Linked DNA regions of Homo sapiens. The protein of the gene in region 1 interacts with the protein of each later gene in a pairwise test. Each region holds a gene or a part of one and is shown on either strand. Other genes may lie near its edges.

Evidence for each region.
Region 2: the proteins of FSBP (region 1) and ATPAF2 interact in binary tests that used the Homo sapiens proteins (3 or more experiments, as listed by UniProt).
Region 3: the proteins of FSBP (region 1) and TCEANC interact in binary tests that used the Homo sapiens proteins (3 or more experiments, as listed by UniProt).

What each region holds. Positions count from the first base shown.
Region 1 is NC_000008.11:94,433,935-94,441,416, reverse strand, and holds the start of FSBP (fibrinogen silencer-binding protein), read left to right. Parts: upstream 1-4,472; 5' UTR 4,473-4,548; coding exon 4,549-4,922; intron 4,923-7,482. UniProt on the Homo sapiens protein: Transcriptional repressor that down-regulates the expression of the fibrinogen gamma chain. Represses transcription of GSK3B gene promoter via its interaction with APBA1.
Region 2 is NC_000017.11:18,017,520-18,022,198, reverse strand, and holds the end of ATPAF2 (ATP synthase mitochondrial F1 complex assembly factor 2), read left to right. Parts: intron 1-341; coding exon 342-454; intron 455-535; exon of another isoform or gene 536-777; intron 778-960; coding exon 961-1,076; intron 1,077-1,200; coding exon of another isoform or gene 1,201-1,239; exon of another isoform or gene 1,240-1,559; intron 1,560-3,512; coding exon 3,513-3,650; 3' UTR 3,651-4,178; downstream 4,179-4,679. UniProt on the Homo sapiens protein: Plays a role in the assembly of the F1 component of the mitochondrial ATP synthase (ATPase).
Region 3 is NC_000023.11:13,648,574-13,656,141, forward strand, and holds the start of TCEANC (transcription elongation factor A N-terminal and central domain-containing protein), read left to right. Parts: upstream 1-4,567; 5' UTR 4,568-4,615; exon of another isoform or gene 4,616-4,866; intron 4,867-6,715; 5' UTR 6,716-6,800; intron 6,801-7,568.

The DNA.
Region 1 (7,482 bases):
TGACCACTCTAGCAAACTAATAGAACCCAGAGGGGATTGTGGGAACCCCAACTTGAAGCTTTTTGGTTAGATGTTCTGGAGGCCCAGACTTGTGACTGGTTGTGTAGCAGGACGAGCCACAGACAAAACCTCTCAGACACCGAGTTGTAGAAGGAAGGGCTTTATTCAGCTGGGAGCATCGGCAAGCTACTGTCTTAAAATCTGAGCTCCCTGAGTGCACAATTTCTGTTCCTTTTAAGGGCTCACAACACTAAAGATTTCACATGAAAGGGTCGTGATTGATTTGAGCAAGCAGGGAGTACGTGACAGGGGCTGCATGCACCGGTGGTCAGAGTGAAACAGAAAAGAGCAGGGAGTTTCACAGTGTTCTTCCATACAATGCCTGGAATCTATGGGTAACATCGGGTTCTAAGTCATGAGTTAATTTTTAACTACTAGGTTTAGGCCAGGCAGGCCCAGGCCTGGTTTTGGACCTGGCGCCGGGCTGCCTGTCTTTGATTTCACTTCCTTGTTTTTTTCTTAAAACAGGTACTGAGTATAAAACAATATAAAACAATATGAGAGGGTCTCTCTCTTCCCTCAGGTGGGGCCATGGGGTTTGTGGTACTGAGCTCTTAACCTTTGAGATCTAACACTATCTCCTGATAGTGTTGGAAAGTTGAATTAGAGGATACCCGGCTCCTCTCCACTGCAGAACTTAACTTCTTGCTTGGTGTGTGGGGAGAAACTCCCACACATTTGGTCACACAAGTCTTCATGTTGATTGTTGTGGTGTGAGAGCAGAGGAAAAACAGTTTGAGTTTTTCACTCTCAGACAGCACAGTGATTCTTCATAAAACTCTATGACTACACCAACGAGCATTGGCAAAGAACAAAAAATTATTCGATGTCTTTTACCAGTTCCATAAACTGGCAGTGATTCATAGCATTTACACATATATTCGTAATATTCTTAACAAGTATATCCATGATACCTTTTCATAGTCTGCTTTAGAAAGTCCTGCATAGTATTTTCCACTTAATTCTGCATCAGTAGTATAGCTTCTTTTAATTTAAAAACTTGTCCATTCTATTTTTAAACTAGAAAGATAATTTTATTGTAATATAATCAAACAGTAATAAATATTTCAGATTAATCATCAATTACAATTTACATAGGTTATCACTAATTTGTGCTGTCTGCATTGAGGACTAAGCTCTGATTTTTTTTTTTTTAATCTTGCCTAAATTCCTATCTAAGGGGTCTGGGGAATCATGCTCTGTAAACCATACATTCTCATCAGATGGTTTTATTTAACCCTGTATATCATGACTTACTTTCCGATCTGACTCTGGCATAACATGGAAGAAAATAAAAATATTTTACCCCAAAACATGTTTCTCTGCCATATCTTGAAATGGTCGTGCAAAGCCATCCCTTGTGGGAAAAATCCACATTCTATAGAGAATCCACTTTCCCCTTGTTTTCCTTCCTTCCTTTCTAGATCCAGGAGATAATCAAGTAAGAGCCAGGCACTCTTTTAGGTCTGATAATAAACAATATACAACCTGTTCTCTCTGAAGTCTGCTATCTGAGAGCTTCCTCTGCACAATAAAACTTGGTGCCTACAATCCTTTATCTTTACCTGAACATACATTTCCTTTCTATTGATCCCAGGTCTTCAGATAAACTCAACCAATTGTAAACCAGAAAACGTTTATAGCCTGGAACACCGCCCCCGCCGCCACCCCGCCCCCGCCTTGAGTTGTCCCGCTTTTCTGAACTAAACCAATGTATTTCTTAAATATATTTGGTTGATGTCTCATGCCTCCCTAAAATATATAAAAGTAAGCCATACGCCACCCACCTTGGCACATGTTCTTAGGGCCACCTGAGGGCTGTGTCTTTGGCCATGGTCACTCATATTTGGCTCAGAATCAATCTCTAAAAATATTTTATACAGAGTTTGACTCTTTTCGTTAACAGCGTGATATATTCAAACACACTATGATCTGCGTCTTTCATTTTAATGCTGCCTGGAGTAGACCATGATATGGATGTATTGTATGCTTTTAACTCCAACTGATGTGCTTTTAGATTGCTTCCACTGTATGCAACTGCAAAGAATGCTTCGTTGCTCCCGTGTGCATTTTATTTTTCTAAGGTATATTCTGAGACATAAAATTACCACAATTTTAGAAGATTTCCTACTCATGTAAAATATTAGTAGATACTTCCAGATCACCATCCAAAATGTCATTTTACACTCCCTTCAGTGGTACAGAAGAGTACTCTTTCCCTTCTATCCTTTTCCACTCTTGGAGTCTTCTTTTTTTTCTTTTTTTGAGGCAGGGTCTCGCTCTGTCACCGAGGCTGGAGTGCAGTGGCATGATTATGGCTTAGTGCAGCCTCAACCTCTTGAGCTCAAGTGATCCTTCCACCTCAGGTTCCCGAATAGCTGGAACTACAGGCATATGCCACCACACCTGGCTAATTTTTGTATTTTTTGTAGACATGGGGTTTCTCCATGTTGCCCGGTCTGGTCTTGAACTCATGTGCTCAAGTAATCCTTGGCCTCTCAAAACTGTTGGATTACAGGCCCATGTGCCACTGAGCCTGGCCTCACTCTTGGCATTTTAAGTCTTAAAAAATTTTGCTAATCTAGGAATGAAAATCATTTTTAGTATACATTTCCCTGATAACTAGTGAGATTGAACATTTTTTCATATTTTAGTAGTGTTTCATTCTTAACATAATACCTGTATTTCTTCTGAAAATAACAAAATAATTATCTAAAGTATATACCCTGTGTTCTGTAATACCTGTATTTCTTCTGAAAATAACAAAATAATTATCTAAATAAAGTATATACCCTATGTTCTTTCTTTGGTTCTCTTTTAATGTTCCAAAAGCTCAGAAAATGCTAGAATGATTTTGAGTACCTGTGGTCCAGTTGTTGTTGGGGCAGGTCGATTTTCTTTTTGCATCTCTATGGACAAGAATCATTTGCATTACTGATTTCTACAATTTACAGAGCTGTGAAACTGCTCAAAGACAATGAAAGGGTAGAACTATTATGGAATCAAATTACTCAGTAGCGTATACCAGACAACATCTAGCATTCCGTAGAACATCCAGCAATCTTTCACTGTTTTCTGAAAGATAATACACTTAAAGCTTTTAACACATTGGCTCACAGTGAGAGCTCAGTAAATGTAATTTGCTTCTCCATTGTTAAAAGAATGAAAAACAAGATAATTGAGAATTTATAGCATTTCTGTGGAACTACAGTTCCCTGGATAGGTGCTGTATCTAGATTCATTTTTGATTTCATTGGGTCTTGCACAGTGCCTGGGAGCATTTATATACGTGGTCAGTAATTAAAAACAATTTATTTTTCCTACCTCTTAATAACTATCACAGTTGTTCAGTAATAGTTTTATTGGATAGAACTATGTTCAAGTATGTTCTAATTTATTCCCCTATCTGGAAAAATATGTATATTGTGAGAAAATAGGTTTGTCTTGCTTACATTATTATGTATCATATATTTTCATACTGGGGTTAACAAATATATTCTAAGCACCGAAACTGGTGGCCTTGAAAATGGCTAGACTAGCTGTTTCCTTTCATAGTCCAAACTGTGTGAATATAGCTAAATAAAAAATCTGGCTCTATTATAATAGCAAATGTGATTTTGTATGTGGAGTCTTAAGGCGTGATTATACTGTTTCTCACCATGAACAGTGATTTTTTACACATGATAAGGCAGGCTAGCAAATTCACATACATTACGGCTAGAATAATCCATTGCTTTAAAAACATGATTTTTACCTGCTTTTTAGATTGAGTGTTCTATAAAAATTTTTTCTTAAGTGAAAAAAATATGCAGAGGCTAATGTAGACTGTAAAATGAAGGAGAAGCTTAGCTTTACTGTGGAGTCTGGGTCTGGGTGTAACCTAACTAGCTAGAGGATATGCAATTCCTGATTGACAGCAGATCCAGCATTATGCAGATTTTGTAAGGGAGAACACTCAGCTCAGAAACAGTGATGAGAGGCTCTGTTAGGAATTACTACATTCACTACTCATATCTTTTAGTTTTCTGTCTACTGGATTTGTAAATAAATAGCACAAAACAGTTCCTCTTTTGTTTTTATTAAAGTGATACTGCAATGCAGTTCAGTCTGTCAGCTAGGCATACATGTGTGAAATTTGATATTCTCACTAAATTAGCTAATTTTTAGCTGTGTTCCATGCTTATCTCTAGACCTTTGTGTATTAAATCCTGTCTCGAGCTGTTCCCTTTATACACAAGTGTGTTTTGCTTGTGCCTTCCTGTCTTCTTCAGTGAGAAGCTTTATGTAGGTCAGGCTTGGCTTAAGCAGATTTCCTGAACCTGCGTCAGCTTAAGCTGGAGGAATTTTAATAAACCCTCCCCTGTAGGCGTGGGCCTAAATGAGGCTAGCCTAGTTAAGCCTGATCTTTTTCTGTTTGTGAAAAGAGCTGAGCAGAGCTGAAGGCTGCATGGTGGTTTCAGAAACTGCCTACTTAATTTGAAAAGAACAATGGTAGGAAAGGCTAGATCTTCCAATTTTACCTTATCCGAAAAGCTTGATTTGCTAAAGCTTGTGAAGCCATATGTGAAAATTCTCGAAGAACACACTAATAAACATTCAGTAATAGTAGAAAAGAATAGATGTTGGGATATCATAGCAGTTAACTATAATGCAATTGGAGTAGACCGCCCTCCTCGAACAGCACAGGGCCTACGCACCCTTTATAAAAGGCTCAAAGAATATGCCAAACAGGAGCTATTGCAGCAAAAAGAGACCCAATCAGATTTTAAAAGCAATATTTCTGAGCCAACCAAGAAAGTTATGGAGATGATTCCCCAGATTTCCAGTTTTTGCCTGGTAAGAGACAGGAACCACATACAAAGGTAAGCTTTATTTTGTTTTGTTATGGAAAATTATGGCGCCTCCTATCTATTGGGCTTTGGCTTAGTCGTGATAGAGATATGCATAGTAAGCATCCCCACAACGGGAGCAATGAATAGTGTCTTTGTTTTGCATTTTTTAAAAAGAGAAAAGTGAGGCTATGAGGAATTTTTCTGTTGCATTTAAGCTACTTTTTACTGTCTTCCCCTCCCCCTTCCCTCCTGTAGTTTCTAAAAGTAAAGGTTAGGGAGGAATAAGTGGGTTGAAATTTGTGACATCACTTCATAAACTTCTTAAGCTTTAAAATTAAATTATTTAGTTTGCTTCTGAGAGATACTTTTTTTCTCATTTAAGATTACATTTCACTGGAATTTTCAATTTTATATAAAATTTATATAAAGTTAGCAGTTTCTAGAGAAATGGAACCTTGCTTTTTTATGAATTGTCATTGTCTACACTTATTGAATATATGTTAACTAACAAATATAAACAAAATCAATAAGTAAACTTGTTAATGGCATGATTGTGTATATGAAGACAGTTTAAATTATTTTTCTAACACGTTTAAAATAAAGATGAACACAACTAAAGGGAGTTAATGCCTAATTAGGGATTCAGTTTACTTAATAAAATTAAAAGTTTTTTGTTGTTGTTGTTTTTATTCCTTAATAGTCTAGTTTCACTTTGATCTTGGGTCGTATAGGAAAGAGTAAGCTTTCTCTTACTGCTTTGCAAGGATATCAAATTATGAATTTTAAAATACCCCTAAGAGCAACTGGGTTTTTTTAGAGTTAGAAGCAATTTTTTGGTTAAACTTGTCTTCTATGTAACTATTTGCCTTGGAATTTTCAAAAGTATTATCTTGCCACTAATTCAGATTGTAACCTCTGGCAAAATATAAAAATGGCAGCTACATTCTTATTCTGAACCATTTAGGGTAATTTAAACAAATTGTAAACTCCTTGTTAGTTTGAGGAGCCTTTCAAACAAAGCTTTACACAATGTGCTTTTCTATTGGTGGAAGAGGCATTATATAAGCAAATTATTGATTACTATGAAATCCCTTTGAAATTAGGAGAGAAGCAGAAAAAAACCACTTTGTAGCCAAGTGCATATGTTATTTTGGTAATTTACTAGGAAAGTATTTTTGAGCCTAGCTTCTTACCAGATACTGCTTATTTCTACTTGATAGCACAGTAAAAAAAATATCACCAGTGGGAATCCAGGACATGAATACACAGTGGATTAATTCTTGGGGCCACTGGTTAAAATGTTCACTGTGATGACAAATGATGAAATCCCAATAGCTAGATATCCAGAAAACTACGCAGTAAAATTGTTTTATACTGTGCTACTTATGCAGAATTTTCTCTCCCTTGAACCATGGAGAAAAGTGTTTTTTGCATCGCAGGTATAAAACTGTACCCTTTGGTTAGTAGGTATAGGTTTTTATAATTTGAAAACGACATGTAGAAACTGTAATTTTAGTTAGTTGCATATTTTAAAAATAACAGTGAGTAGAAGAAAAATAATATATAAATATACAAGTATCTGGTTACATTTTGACTATTTGTGTGTGTGAATATTTACAATATTCACACACAAAAAATCTTTTGGGATATGAACATTTCTCTGATAAAAATGAGTTGATTTGTACATTTCTATACCTATGGCTTAAATAATACCAATTTGTTAGGTTTTAAAGGGAAGAATATAAGAAACATGCCTTTTAAATTCTTATGTTACTGTGTCTACATTGACATTTTCTCTGTATTAGCTTATTTCTTTAATATATATATTTAATGTGCTTATATTTATTTGATTGATATCATCCTTGAATCTTAATAATCTCAGAAGTTTATAATTATTCTATAATCTTAACTATACTTCTACATAAATATGCCTGTTAATCTTACCAAACTCTTCCTTTTTAATAAGGAAAATACTAGTGTTTGCGTTAACATACTTAAAAATATATACCTGTTTTGTAAGGCTATTTATTTTCTGTAACTCACATTGACTTATGTCTTTATTTTTACCTCTTCCTAATATCAGTTTATATTTTGTGTTTTTGTAAACTGATCTTCAAAGTTCTGATTCTCAAGTCCTTCTCTGTCATTTTTGTGACCTGCTCTAAAGCTTTTTTTCTCCCTTTTTATATTGTTATGCCTTAGTTGTAATGTTTTAGCTAAAATGGAAAGGAATGTTCCAGATATGAGGCATATTTTTAATTTACTTGGTAGTATTATGTCTATGTTTATACTCTCTATTTTACATACTAATTTGAAATAGTAATTATGTGGTTTTAAAAACTTAATTTTCATATGCAATTTTAGCCTTTTCCCATTCCAGGTTTTAGCAGAGCTATTAATAGAAGCAGAGCTTGCTACTTTGAATTACATTTATAATTAATTGTTTTGTTTTTGGAAATAATAAAATGACACAAACAGAGACAAGAACAAAAATGAATTTATATAACCTACAAATAGATTTTTTATTATATACTATATATGTTTCATTTTGTCTCTTAGATAAATATCTGATATTTCTGGCAATTTAATG
Region 2 (4,679 bases), on another chromosome or scaffold:
ACTTTAAAGAGATGTAAAAGGCAGATGGCCTTTTGATGGAGATTCCAGGTGAATGAATGAGCATTTCAGGCAGCTGCGTATAACCGAGCCCTAGCTCACATGACTCAGGAACCATCCCTTCATTCAGCACAGTTTCTTGGTCCTCCAAGTTTGCTTTTGAGGGACAGAAAATCAGGTCGGGAGGCCACTGACCATGGTGGCAGTTGCTCCTGTAGTCAAGACTAGCTCCTTGGCCAATGCACACACATGCTCTGAAGCTTAGGCCTTTGTTTCTAGTCAAAAGGTGGGCTGCTCTTGGGCTACAGCATGACAGAGACATGCCGAAGCCCTTTTCCTTTCAGATACGGCGTGGAGATCAGCTCCTCCACCAGCATAATGGGACCCAGCATCCCTGCCAAAACTCGGGAGGTGCTCGTCAGCCACCTGGCATCTTACAACACATGGGCTTTACAAGGCATGTATGGAGTTTCTTGTGGGCTTGGCAGGTGGCTGTGAAGGCCATCAGTGTCTGAAGCCTGTACTTGCCCCTCCCCAGGTCCTGTGAGTGGAGAGGCACAGAGTGTTCTGGGCTAGCTGAGTGTGGAGGCTGGGTGGCTCTGATGCTAGCCAATCACTCTACGCTCTAGGCTCACACCTTTCCACCTTCGACTTCGCCAGCAGAAGTCTTGAGTTCAATCTCATTGCCCTGGCTTGGGTCACATGTCCATCCATGAACCAATCACTAGACTGGGTGCGGAAAGCTCTGATTTGCCAAGTTCGGGTCATGTGTCTCACTAGGTAAGAGCAGAGGAGGATCACCCCCAGGGAAGACCAGAGTGCTCTTTCAGAAGAGTGGGACAATCGCTGGATGGCTCTTTGCACCACTCACTCCTGTTCTCTGCTAGGGCTGCTGGGACTCACAAGGGGTAGGTTGTGGCAGCTGCCCTGTTTTGGGTTCTGACTTGGCTTGTGTCCCTGCAGGGATTGAGTTTGTAGCTGCCCAGCTCAAGTCCATGGTGCTAACCTTGGGCCTGATTGACCTGCGCCTGACAGTGGAGCAGGCCGTGCTGCTGTCACGCCTGGAGGAGGAGTACCAGGTGAGGAGCAGCACCTCAGGTCCCGCCTCCCCCTTCCTAGTTCAGACTCACTTTGGGGGAGCAGCTAACCCATCTGAAATATAGTTATGCATACTTGGCTTTTATTACTTTTATGTACACGCAGAAATCAAAATCAAGGACCAGCAGAAGTATTGTCAAGTAGGCCTGGCATGGTGGTTCACACCTGTAATCCCAGCACTTTGGGTGGCTGAGGAGGATGGATCATTTGAGGTCAGGAGTTTGAGACCAGCCTGGGCAACATGGCAAAACCCTCTCTCTACAAAAATACAAAAATTAGCACCTGTAGTCTCAGCTACTTGGGAAGCTGACGTGGGAGGATTGCTTGAACCTGGGAGGTGGAGGTTGTAGTGAGCCAGGATTGTGCCACTGCATTCTAGCCTGGGTGACAGAGTGAGACCCTGTCTCAAAAAAAAAAAAAAAAAAGGTAAGATAATAACAATAAAAAAATAACAGTAAGTGCTACCGCTGTGTTCCTGCATTGTATCCATCTCACCTCCTCTCAGCAGCCTGGGCAGGTAGGAGCTGTGGTTATCTCTGTTTTACACAGAAGGAAATGGAGGTGCAAGGTTGCACCTCTGGAAAATGTGCCAGCTGGGGTTTGAAGCCAGGTCTGGTGATTTTAGGGCCAAGGCCGTCAGGCCTCACTCTGCACAAGGAGGTTCACGGGTGGATAAAGACCATCTGGGCTTGATAAAGCCTGCAGAACAGGCCCTGCCAAGATGACTGAGAACCCGTTTGTGCTCCTTCATCAGCTGAGCCTTCATACCCTGACATTTTATCTGGCTGGCAGAGGAGCATAGGGGTAGCTGCTGTTTGTATACAAGTTTTGATTTAGTGGGCTCAGAATTAAGGTTTTGCCACAGTATGGTTTGCATTTTTTAACTCTGAAAATTATAGCCATCTTTGCAGTCTTTTTATTGTTATTCCACCAACCTCAGAAGGTTAATTGCTATTATGAATTGGTCCCTAATATGGTAAAAACAAACAAACAAAAAAACACAAAACTTTTTGTGATGTATTTCCCTAGTTCTTGTAGTCTTCTGCTCAGAAAAATGCCAGGGAAAAAACTATTTTTGTATAACAAAGGAGGCCCGCTACTATTCTCTGGATGTCAGAACTGATTACATAGGAAGGGGGTGACTTGTAGGGCTGGTGGGAAGCCAGTCTGGGCTCTGCTTCTGACTATGGGACCCAAGCCAGGCCATCATTCTCTGAACTTTGGTTTCGATCCTCTACAAACAGAGGAATAACCTGAATTATGTATGTGATGGTATACAATGAAAGTATGGAATACTCTTCAGATGACATATTACAATTGTACAGTTTGGGACCAGGCAGCCCAGAAGTTCAAATAGCTTGTGTAGCATGGTGGATTCTGAGTTCCTGGATGAGCTGGGGCGGCCAGGCCAGGCCTCTTGGGCAACTAGCCAGGGAGGAGCCAGCAAGGTTTGGTTGGACTTACACTGTCTGGACAGCCACATCGTGTGTCTGAGCGTTCCTCCCTCTTGTTTTTAGAGCTCCAGACAGAGAATCTGCAACTTGTCCCCAGTGTGCAGAGCAGAGGCATCTGTAGTTCTGTGACTACCACAAGAGTCAGAGTTGAAGCCACTGCGTGGCCTTACTTGATTTAGTTATTCCACCCACATGGCGCTGGGGGGCACTTGTAGCCCAGCATGGCAAGGCAACTTGGAGAGGCTGTCCATTCACAGGCTTTCTGGGAGGAAGTGTAGGAGAAGGGATGGCACATAAGGCCTCCTCAAAGAAGTCACATGGGTGGTTCTGGTACCCAGCCTGCCCAGTGGTGGGTGGGCAGCCACTGGCCCTGGGCCTGGGCCTGGACTGCACTTCTTCCAGACCATCCATGCCACAGAGAGCACAGGTGCCTGCTCCGGCTCCCTGGGGGTGGGGTGGTGGGGTGTGTGTGTGTGTGTGTGTGTGTGTGTGTGTGTGTGTGGTGTTTTTGAGACAGGGTCTTGCTCTGTTGCCCAAGTGGGAGTGCAGCGGTGTGATCTTGGCTTACTGCAGCTTCAGCCTCCTGGGCTCAAAGCAGTCCTCCTACCTCAGTCTCTCAAATAGCTGGGACTACAGGTGCACCCCCACCACACCCAGCTAATTTTTAAACCTTTTTGTAGAGGCGAGGTTGCACCATATTTGCCCAGGCTGGTCTTGAACTCCTGGATTCAAGCAGTCTTCCTGCCTCGGTCTCCCAGAGTGCTGGGATTACAGGCGTGAGCCACCGTGTCTGGCGTACCTGGGTGTTCTTACCTGCCACCTCCCCCTAGGCATGTCTCATGTGTTTTGGCAAGATACAAACCTGTTGCCCTCAGCCAACCTATTGGAATGGAACGTGGCTTTGGTCAGGAGGCAGCCAGGCACTGGCCACTCACCCAGCAACTTGTCTTGTCCTTCCCTCAGATCCAGAAGTGGGGCAACATTGAGTGGGCCCATGACTATGAGCTGCAGGAGCTGCGGGCCCGCACCGCCGCCGGCACCCTCTTCATCCATCTCTGCTCCGAGAGCACCACAGTCAAGCACAAGCTCCTGAAGGAGTGAGGCCTGGGCAGAGCACACTCAGCAGGATAGAGGCAGTGCAGCCACAGCTCCCCCGGCCTTCAGGGCTCCCCAGCCTGTGGGGCTGGCTTCCTTGGCTTTTGGGGACTCGGCCTCAGCGTCACCCTGAGATTCCCCCCGAGACACAGTGCGCTAGTACGGCTGTCCGGAGGTCAGCCTGATTTCAACCCAGGTGCCCCTGGCCTGGCCAGCAGTGAATGTAGGAGATGAATTGTGCAAGTGACTTTCTCTCGACTCTGATTTTATTAAATATTTCTCCACCCTGGAAATGTGCTGAGCCCTGTTTTCACGTATGCCTCTGCACTTCTCCATTCTTCCTGTTTTGTCTAGGTTCCAGAGGGTTAAACAGCTTATCTCCCATGGCGTGTTTGGATATCTGCTGCCTGTGGTCAGGAACCTTGCACTGGGGAAACAATCATGTAATCCACAGACAACTCTATTTGTGTTCTTCAGCCTCAGCCTGAAGGCTTTTTTTTGGCTGGCTTTTAATCAAACAATCTTTTGAAACAATTGTGGTCTAAGCTGGTTGTTTCTATTTGTTCCTACTGTTCTAAAACAAATGATTTACTCTAGAAAGTAGAAAATAGAAGTTGTTTCTGGGCTAAAAGCCTGGACAGGCTTGACAAGGTCACCTGATGTGCATGTTTCCGCTCATCTCCCACCCAGGAGTCCTAAGGGTCCTCCTGACATAGCCACCTCTAGTGTCCCAGGAGGCAGGCGCTACTTTCTGGTGTCAGGCCAGTAAGAGGGCAGGGGGGAAGAGTGGTTCTCAGGCAGACAGGCTCTCTCAGCCCTGTGTCCTTGCCAGCCTGAGTAAGGTAATGGCATCAACCCTGCTCACAGGGCACTGATCGCATGCTGGGTGCCTCTCCACGCTTCCCATGCACTGTCTCCCTGAACTGTTCCTCGAAGGCACTGTGAGGTACTGTCACAGATGACACCAGGGCTGCGGGGGTGACATGGTGGAGCTGGGATGCCCTGCCTGCACTCTGCTCTTCTGGAGGGTCCTCA
Region 3 (7,568 bases), on another chromosome or scaffold:
TGGTAACTGCTCCCATGAATCAATTACCTCCCACCAGGTCCCTCCCACAACACATAGGCATTATAGGAACTACAATTCAAGATGAGATTTGGGTGGGGACACAGCCAAACCATATCAACCAAGAGGTGACTGAAGCCAGACTTTCTGGTCCTTCATCATTCCTCCACTAAATGTTGCCATAAATCTATGGTAGAATAACATACCTTCTAGAGAAATTAGCAAAATGGACAAATGGTATAGAAAAGGAGAATAAGAGGTATGGAACTGATCTGGAGATTACTACAGGTACAAGAAGGTGTTAAATGGGATATTTCCTGACTCAGAGTTTTGTCCAAGGCCCCAAAGGTGAGAGCACAATGTTAAGTGTCTGCTGGTTCTAATGAGAGATGTTAGACCATTTACCCAGGGCTTACTAAATGATGAGCCAAAAACTCCTGTCACCCATGCCCGTTTGCCACTCTTCAGCTTATGTACAGGAGAAGGCAACAGTGAAAGAGGGTTGTTACAGTTCTGGAAGCTTCCTTCCCACCCCCACTCCAAGGCAAGTGAGGGTGACTTTGAGAGAACCACTCAGAGAGATTGACAGGTGCCCCTGTTGTAGAATGGTGTCTGACTCTCCAAAAAAAAAAAAAAAAAAAAAAAAAAAACAATAAATAGGCGAGAAGCCAGCTAGAGCTACCTAAGACCAACTGTGAAGATGACGAGAAGGGCTGCAGAGGGAACAGCCCTGCTTCCAGGGCTGGGCGGGGAGCAGGGCCGCTGGGTTGTTCCCATGGGCTAAGTGCACATCAAGCAAGCAGCTGGGCCTAGGCTGTCTTGGAAGGACCCTGACCAACAGGCCTGCAGGTGAGGTAACCCGACAGAAAAAGTTTGTGTGGGATGTGCTACCAAAAGCAGGAGCCAGCGGTTAACCAGAGGGTGCAGCATCTGAACCATGGAATGGGTAATAAGGGGCTACCAGCAAAGGGAGGGTCCTCCAAAAAATCTCCAAAGTGGGCCCCTCCAAAGAACAAAAGAGGTATTAGGTTGGTTTAAGCAATCTGTGGCCCACCAGCCAGGGACTGCCTGACCCGTTGAACTAGCTCTTCTGGAAGCCTCTGGGGATGTTCACTGGAGATACCATGTTCGCTGCTTCTCTGTCATTTCACCTGCATAAGTCTGAGAAATATGTTGCAGAACTTAAACATAAAGTTTCTGTTTCTATAATGTATGACTTTTTGTTCTATTTCCTAATATTCTGTAACTCCTGAGATTTCAAGGGAACTCTTCATCGTTTTAATCCCATGCCTTATGTACTGTGACTTATAAGAACATCCCCAGTTAAGCCCAGTGTCTGGTCCTGGTGTTTTATCAGGAAATGAACACCGGCCGGCACCTCAGAACCCAGAAAGAGGCAGTTTCTATGACCTCATTCCATGGAAAACATCTGTAACTGTTCCCTCAGCAATGTGTAACATTAGCCTCTGGAGAAGGCCCATAAGATTTTGTCTCTCTTCCGTGGGAATTTGCAGGAAAGGGCTGTCTGCATGAGCTCAGAATATCTATTAATATATTGCCACTCAGAGACTTAATAAGGATTGAAAAGAGGTTTCCGCTGCACTAAGGGAAATTTATCAAAGAGAATTCCAGAGTATTGAAGCAGCTGAAAGATGATTTTAAAACAAAGGCCTGAAAACTATGCATGATAAATTATCATAGATGTGAGTACTTTTATAGGTATTCCATTTTTAAATTGCCCAAAAGAACAAACTTTTCAGCAACCTCTTTAGAATCCACTGGCAGCCCTAGATTCATTCCAGATGAACTCAGCCAGAAATTTCTACAGCAATGAGCATGTTCTATATCTGTGCTATCCAATATGGTACCCACTAGCCACAGGTGGCTATTGAGAACTTGACATTTAGCTAGTGCAACTGAGGAACTGAAGTTTAAATTTTATCTGAATAGCCACATGTGGCTACTGTAGTAGACAAGGCAGGACTACGCAGTAATTATAGCTTGCCTCTTAGTTGAAATAATGGTCTTATCCTTCACACCAGAGAAAACACTAGGTTGTTTTTGATTTTAGACTTTTGAGTAATTTCTGTTTTTTTCTTCAGCATAGAGTTCATGAGAAATTGATTATAATATGCCTCAAAGCTCTAATGACCACTTCTGTAGTAACTTCTAGTTTCCAAACTGACTCCTTCAGATTGAGCCTTTCATAGTTTGAGTGCCATTGTTTTGACAAATATCAGATATTTTAAGAATTGCATGTTACAAATCTGATCACAAAGAAAGTATTTTTCCTAGGTAACTGTCTAAAACTAGAGATGGTTGGTCTAGGAGCCAATAGTCCTTCGGATTTTTAAATCAGTGTTTACAAAGTGGGGCAAGAGTACTCATAAAATGAACCAAAAAAGTAACAATGAGAAGAGAAATACCATTAAAGCATGTTAAATTAAATAAGCAGGAGGCTATTGGCTCAAGGCTGTCTCTGTACTTTGATTTTCTACACAATGAATTGCAATTTAACTTAGTACATAAATACACTGAAAGCTTAACCTAAGGAAGAGTATAATAAACAGCCAAGTCTCAGCCAAACACAAGCAGACAAGCTTCAGCCAATCACAAGCTGCCAACTTCTCAGATCATATCCAAATGATCTGATCATTGATTGCAACCAATCAGCCTATTTCTGTATTTTACTTCCATTCTCTGTCTATAAATACTCACGGCCCACAAAGCTCTCTGAACCTATTCTGATTCTGAGTGCTGTCCGATTCATGAATCATTCTTTGCTCACATAAACTCTGCCAAATTTAAATTACGTCAATTTTTTTTTATTTTAACAGGCAAAAGTAAAGATTATCAAGCATTCTTTTCCAACCAAACTTTAGTCAGTCTCCTGACTAGGCCTATCTGTGCACTTCCTTGTAAAATCCAGTTTTAGCAAAAAGCCTTGATAAATCAGTTTAGCCAAAAGCAACCACCCTCAATATCTGATCACCCTTAATATCTGATTTGGTTCCTCATCCTCCACCAACCTCCAGGTGACATCTGATCACCCTGGCCCGTCTTCAGCAAGAATCTTGTCAGGTTGGTTTAGACAGAATCCCCCTTACCCCTGATGTTTCCTCTTAATAATTTTCCATCCACTGACCCCCCTACCTTGCTCCTTGGCTATAAATTCTCACTTTTCCATGCTACAATTGAAGTTGAGCCCAATCTCTCTTCCCCACTGCAAGACCCTGTTGCAGTGGTACCTATGTCTATCTCAATGGTCCTGAATAAAGTCTTCCTTACCATGCTTTAACAAGTGACAAGTGTCATTAAATAATTTTTTTTTTTTGAGACCAAGTCTTGCTCTGTCGCTAGGCTGGAGTGCAATGGCTCGATCTCAGCTCACTGCAACCTCCGCCTCCCGGGTTCAAGCGATTCTCCTGCCTCAGCCTCCCAAGTAGCTGGGATTACAAGCACGTGCCACCACGCCTGGCTAATTTTTTGTATTTTTAGTAGAGACGGGGTTTCACCGTGTTAGCCAGGATGGTCTCGATCTCCTGACCTCATGATCCGCCTGCCTCGACCTCCCAAAGTGCTGGGATTACAGGCATGAGCCACCACGCCCAGCCAAATAATTTTTTCTTTAAAAAGGTATTATATAATCCTTAAACATTTTAGCCCTATAATAGACAGCAAGAAAAAAGTAACCCCTGACAGCTCTGAGCTGCCCCGGCAGTCACAGCTGGGCCTTGGTGCTGCGTGGAACATAAATACTTCACAGAACACCATCAGACGTGGCCACTCTTTGACCAGATGGATCAAGACAAAAACAAGACTCCTTCGTAATCACGTGGGAATGCTGAAAAAACGTAAACATTGTCCAAACCACAAAAATGACCAAACATCCCCTATCCCAGTTAATGAGTCACTGGTCTTGTCTCCCCTCCTTTTAGGTAAGATTTATTATGATACTTAATCATACAATCGCCCTCCTTCCTGCCAGCACCCAGTCCAGAGTATTGGATTGGATACTCTGTTTCCCTGAACCTTTCCCCAAATTACCTTGGGGTAAGGCATCAGCAAAGGAGGCTGTCACATTCGTTCAACCATCACTGTGCTTTTACTGGCCCTTTGCAGGCAAAGAATGAGAATATGCACAGATGAGAAGTCCAGGATGCACAAGACCACTCAATTAACATTTACTACTTTCATATCAACTGATGCATGCTAGGATGCTAAAAACACTTTTTGAATTAATTACTGCGTTAAATAGATTCACATTTATGTCTACAGTTATGTGAACATCTAGCTGAGCACTGTCTTGACTGTCCTGAGTAGAAGCAGAAAAGATAAGTTGTAAAGTACATCAACAAACTTTGCTGCTAAAAAACGAAAGTGCAGTTTCTTTCTCTCGGGCCCGGGGCGGGGCCATGGCTCCTCCTCTAGGAAGCCGCGCGAGCGCAGTCCCACGGCAGCCATTTCCCTAGCGCGCATGCACTGGGTCCCAGGACCACGTGCGCCGGCCTGTGGGCTTGGATTGGCTGAGCCTTGACGTTGTCCCAGTCCCGGTGATCGGAAGTTCTCCGTGGGCACTGGGCGGCTGAAGGCTCCGGAACTGCGCCTGCGCTTTTCGGTGAGTCATGCTTCAGGTTTGCCAGGGCCTGTGTCCCGCAAAAAGGCGAGCCCTTATTCCCAGCGGAAGCCCACCCCGGCTCGCGGCAGCTTTCCGGTGCGCCCTGGGCGGCGTAGATCCGAAGGTGCTCGCACCCCCGCCCCTTCCTCTCCGACTGTCGAGGTCGCCAGAGTGGGCTGAACCCTCGGGACTGTCGCTGTTTGTGTGCTGGGTGCCGGGCCGTCATCCCAAGATGATTAGCGGCAGGCTTTGCATGTTGCTCGACCCCACCCACCGGAACTCGAACCCGGGCTAGACCGGGCAGTTGGGCTGGTCCCTTCCTCTCGCTGCACCTTTACTAGGGGTCACCATTAAGGGAAATGGTCCTAGTGCAGTGCTGAGTGGCTGTTCAGTAACCGCTACACCGCTGCCAACATTTGGCATCGTTTCTCTCCATAGAGGGCGGGGCTCCCTGTGAAGCTGGGGAGCTGTTAAGTGGGTTAGGGCTAGAAAGTTACAGTTTCTCTTTAGGCTTTAAAGAGATCTAAAGATCTGAACAGATCTAGGTTATTTTTGACTTGTTACAAACTTCTGGAAACATTGTTTCCAGACCTTTCCTCTCGTTCTTCTCAGGGTTTAGGCCATTTTTGTGCAGATGTGTGCACCTTGCTTACTATAATATTAGCTAATCTTTATAAGTTTTTATATGGATCCAATACCATATTTCGTGCCTACTTTTCCTGGCACTGTATACACTTTTTGGTATAGGTATGCACCTAAGCAAGCATTATCCATATTAGCATCAGTTCTAGAACCGTGGCGTCCCAATAATGATAGCCATTAGTTACATAAGGCTTGATCACTTGAAATGTGGCTAGTCCGAATTGAGATGTGCTGTAAGTGTAAGACACAGTGAATTTTCGAGAATTAGCATGAAAAAGAATGTAAAATATCTCAATTTGTTTATATTAATCACATGTTGAAATGACTATTCTGGATACACTGGGTTAAATAAAATGTATAATTAATTTCACCAATTTTTATTTTTTAACATGACTACTGGAAAATTTTAAATCATATTTGTGGTTTACATGTTATATATATGTTGCACAGCCCTGCTCTAGAAAAGGGTCAACAAACTATGGCCTGCAGCCAAATCCAGCCTGCCTGTTTTTGTAAACAAGTGTTACCAGAGCAAGATCATGCCTATCCATTTATGTTATTTTCTGTATCTGCTGTTGCTGCTACAATAGCAGCAGAGTTGAGTAGTCCATAGAGATTGTATGGCCTACAAAGCCTAGAATATATACCTTCTGATCTTTAACAGAAAAAGTGTGCTGACCCCCTGCTGTAGAACAATGCCTGGTTTGGTAGATATTTTTAAGCCTTTTAATTGTAGATTCACATCCTATTATTCACACTTACTGTGTGACAGCCATAGTTCAAAGCACTTTATCAAGACTTTCATTTAATTCTCATTAATCCTAGGATGTTGGATTTCTCCCATTTTGTAGATGAGGAAATTGAGGCACAGAATGGTCAAGAAACTTATCCAACTTGCTCAGCACCCCTCACTTCTGGGAACTGGACCTGCTTGACCTTCCTTATGCAAATGTTTTGACCCCTCAAACCCACTTCATTAGCCCACAGTGGGCACCATGGTTTTTTTGTTTGTTTGTTTGTTTGTTTTGTTTTTTTTAACAAGATTTATTTGAACTAGAATTTTTGAATGATTTTTTTGAACTAGAATCGAGATGGGCTTGGTCTCCTACGAAAGAAGCCAAGGGGCACTGGGCTTAGGTGCAATGAGTACAAGCAAGCTGGTGTGTAGTGAAAAGAAATGAAGCTCCCAAGCAGAGAAGAGAGAGAGCATCCTGGATGCTCATTACTCATTTAACAACAACAAAAATGTGTTAAGTAATAGTAAGCACTGACTGGGTGTTTGCTAGGTGTGTATAGGTGAATAAAACATGTGGATCTTCTCTTATGGTCTTGTGGGGAAGGCAGTAAAAACGTTTTTTAAATGTGATTAACACCATGAAAAAAACTTGCAAATTATTTACTGTTTTTAGCAGGTTTCCTCACCTGTAAGATGAAAATAAGCCATTATCTGTATTGCAGGAGTATTGTGAGGATTGAGATGACTGGAGTGTGTGTGGCCTGGAGAGTTGCTCAATAAATATATGTTGCCTTCCACTGTGAAGAGGTAAGTGAGAGGGTGAATATCAGGAATTGTGTACATTATGACACTTAAAATATTACAGTTGTCATTTGTAATTTGTAGAGAAGGTTGTCAGCTGCATTGTACACAGTAGGTGTTTTAAATCTTTTCTGACTGAATGGGACTCATCTAGAAAAGCCAGTCATAGAGTTGTCTGCATTCGGTCCAGGAGCAGAACCAGAGCTGTCTTTGGGGCTGATGGCAGCCTAACTGGCAGGTCCTGCTGGGGTGTGGAAGAGGGTTGTATGCCTGTGTGTGGTTTAAATCAGAGTCACCCTGGAGAGCTGAGCCAATATGCAGGCCCTACCCTCAGAGATCCTAATTCATCCTATCTGGAGTGAGGCCCTGCCATTGTTTGTTTTTGTTTTTTGTTGTTTAATTTCCCCAGAGGATTCTAATGTGCAGCCAGGCTTGAGAACCACTAATGGTGAGAGATCAGCCAGGCTCGGGATGCTGCTTGAGCAAAGGCACAGAGCCGTGCCCATCAGTGGTTGCGAGTAGTCAAGAGGGAGGCCTGCTAGGGCTCTTTTTGCCACTGGCCAAGGAGCTTTGGCTCCATCATGAAAGCAAGGGGAAACCTCTCAAGGGCTTTCAGCAGGAAAATGAGGGAGTATCTTTCTGAGATCTGTACTAGAGGATGATCCCTCTAACAAAGTGCCAGACTCACAGTTGGGCCTTGTGAGTGCCAGAAGTACAGTGAAGGCAGTAAAGAAGCAAATTGTAGCTGTCCAGATGATGGCGAGCCCAGATAGG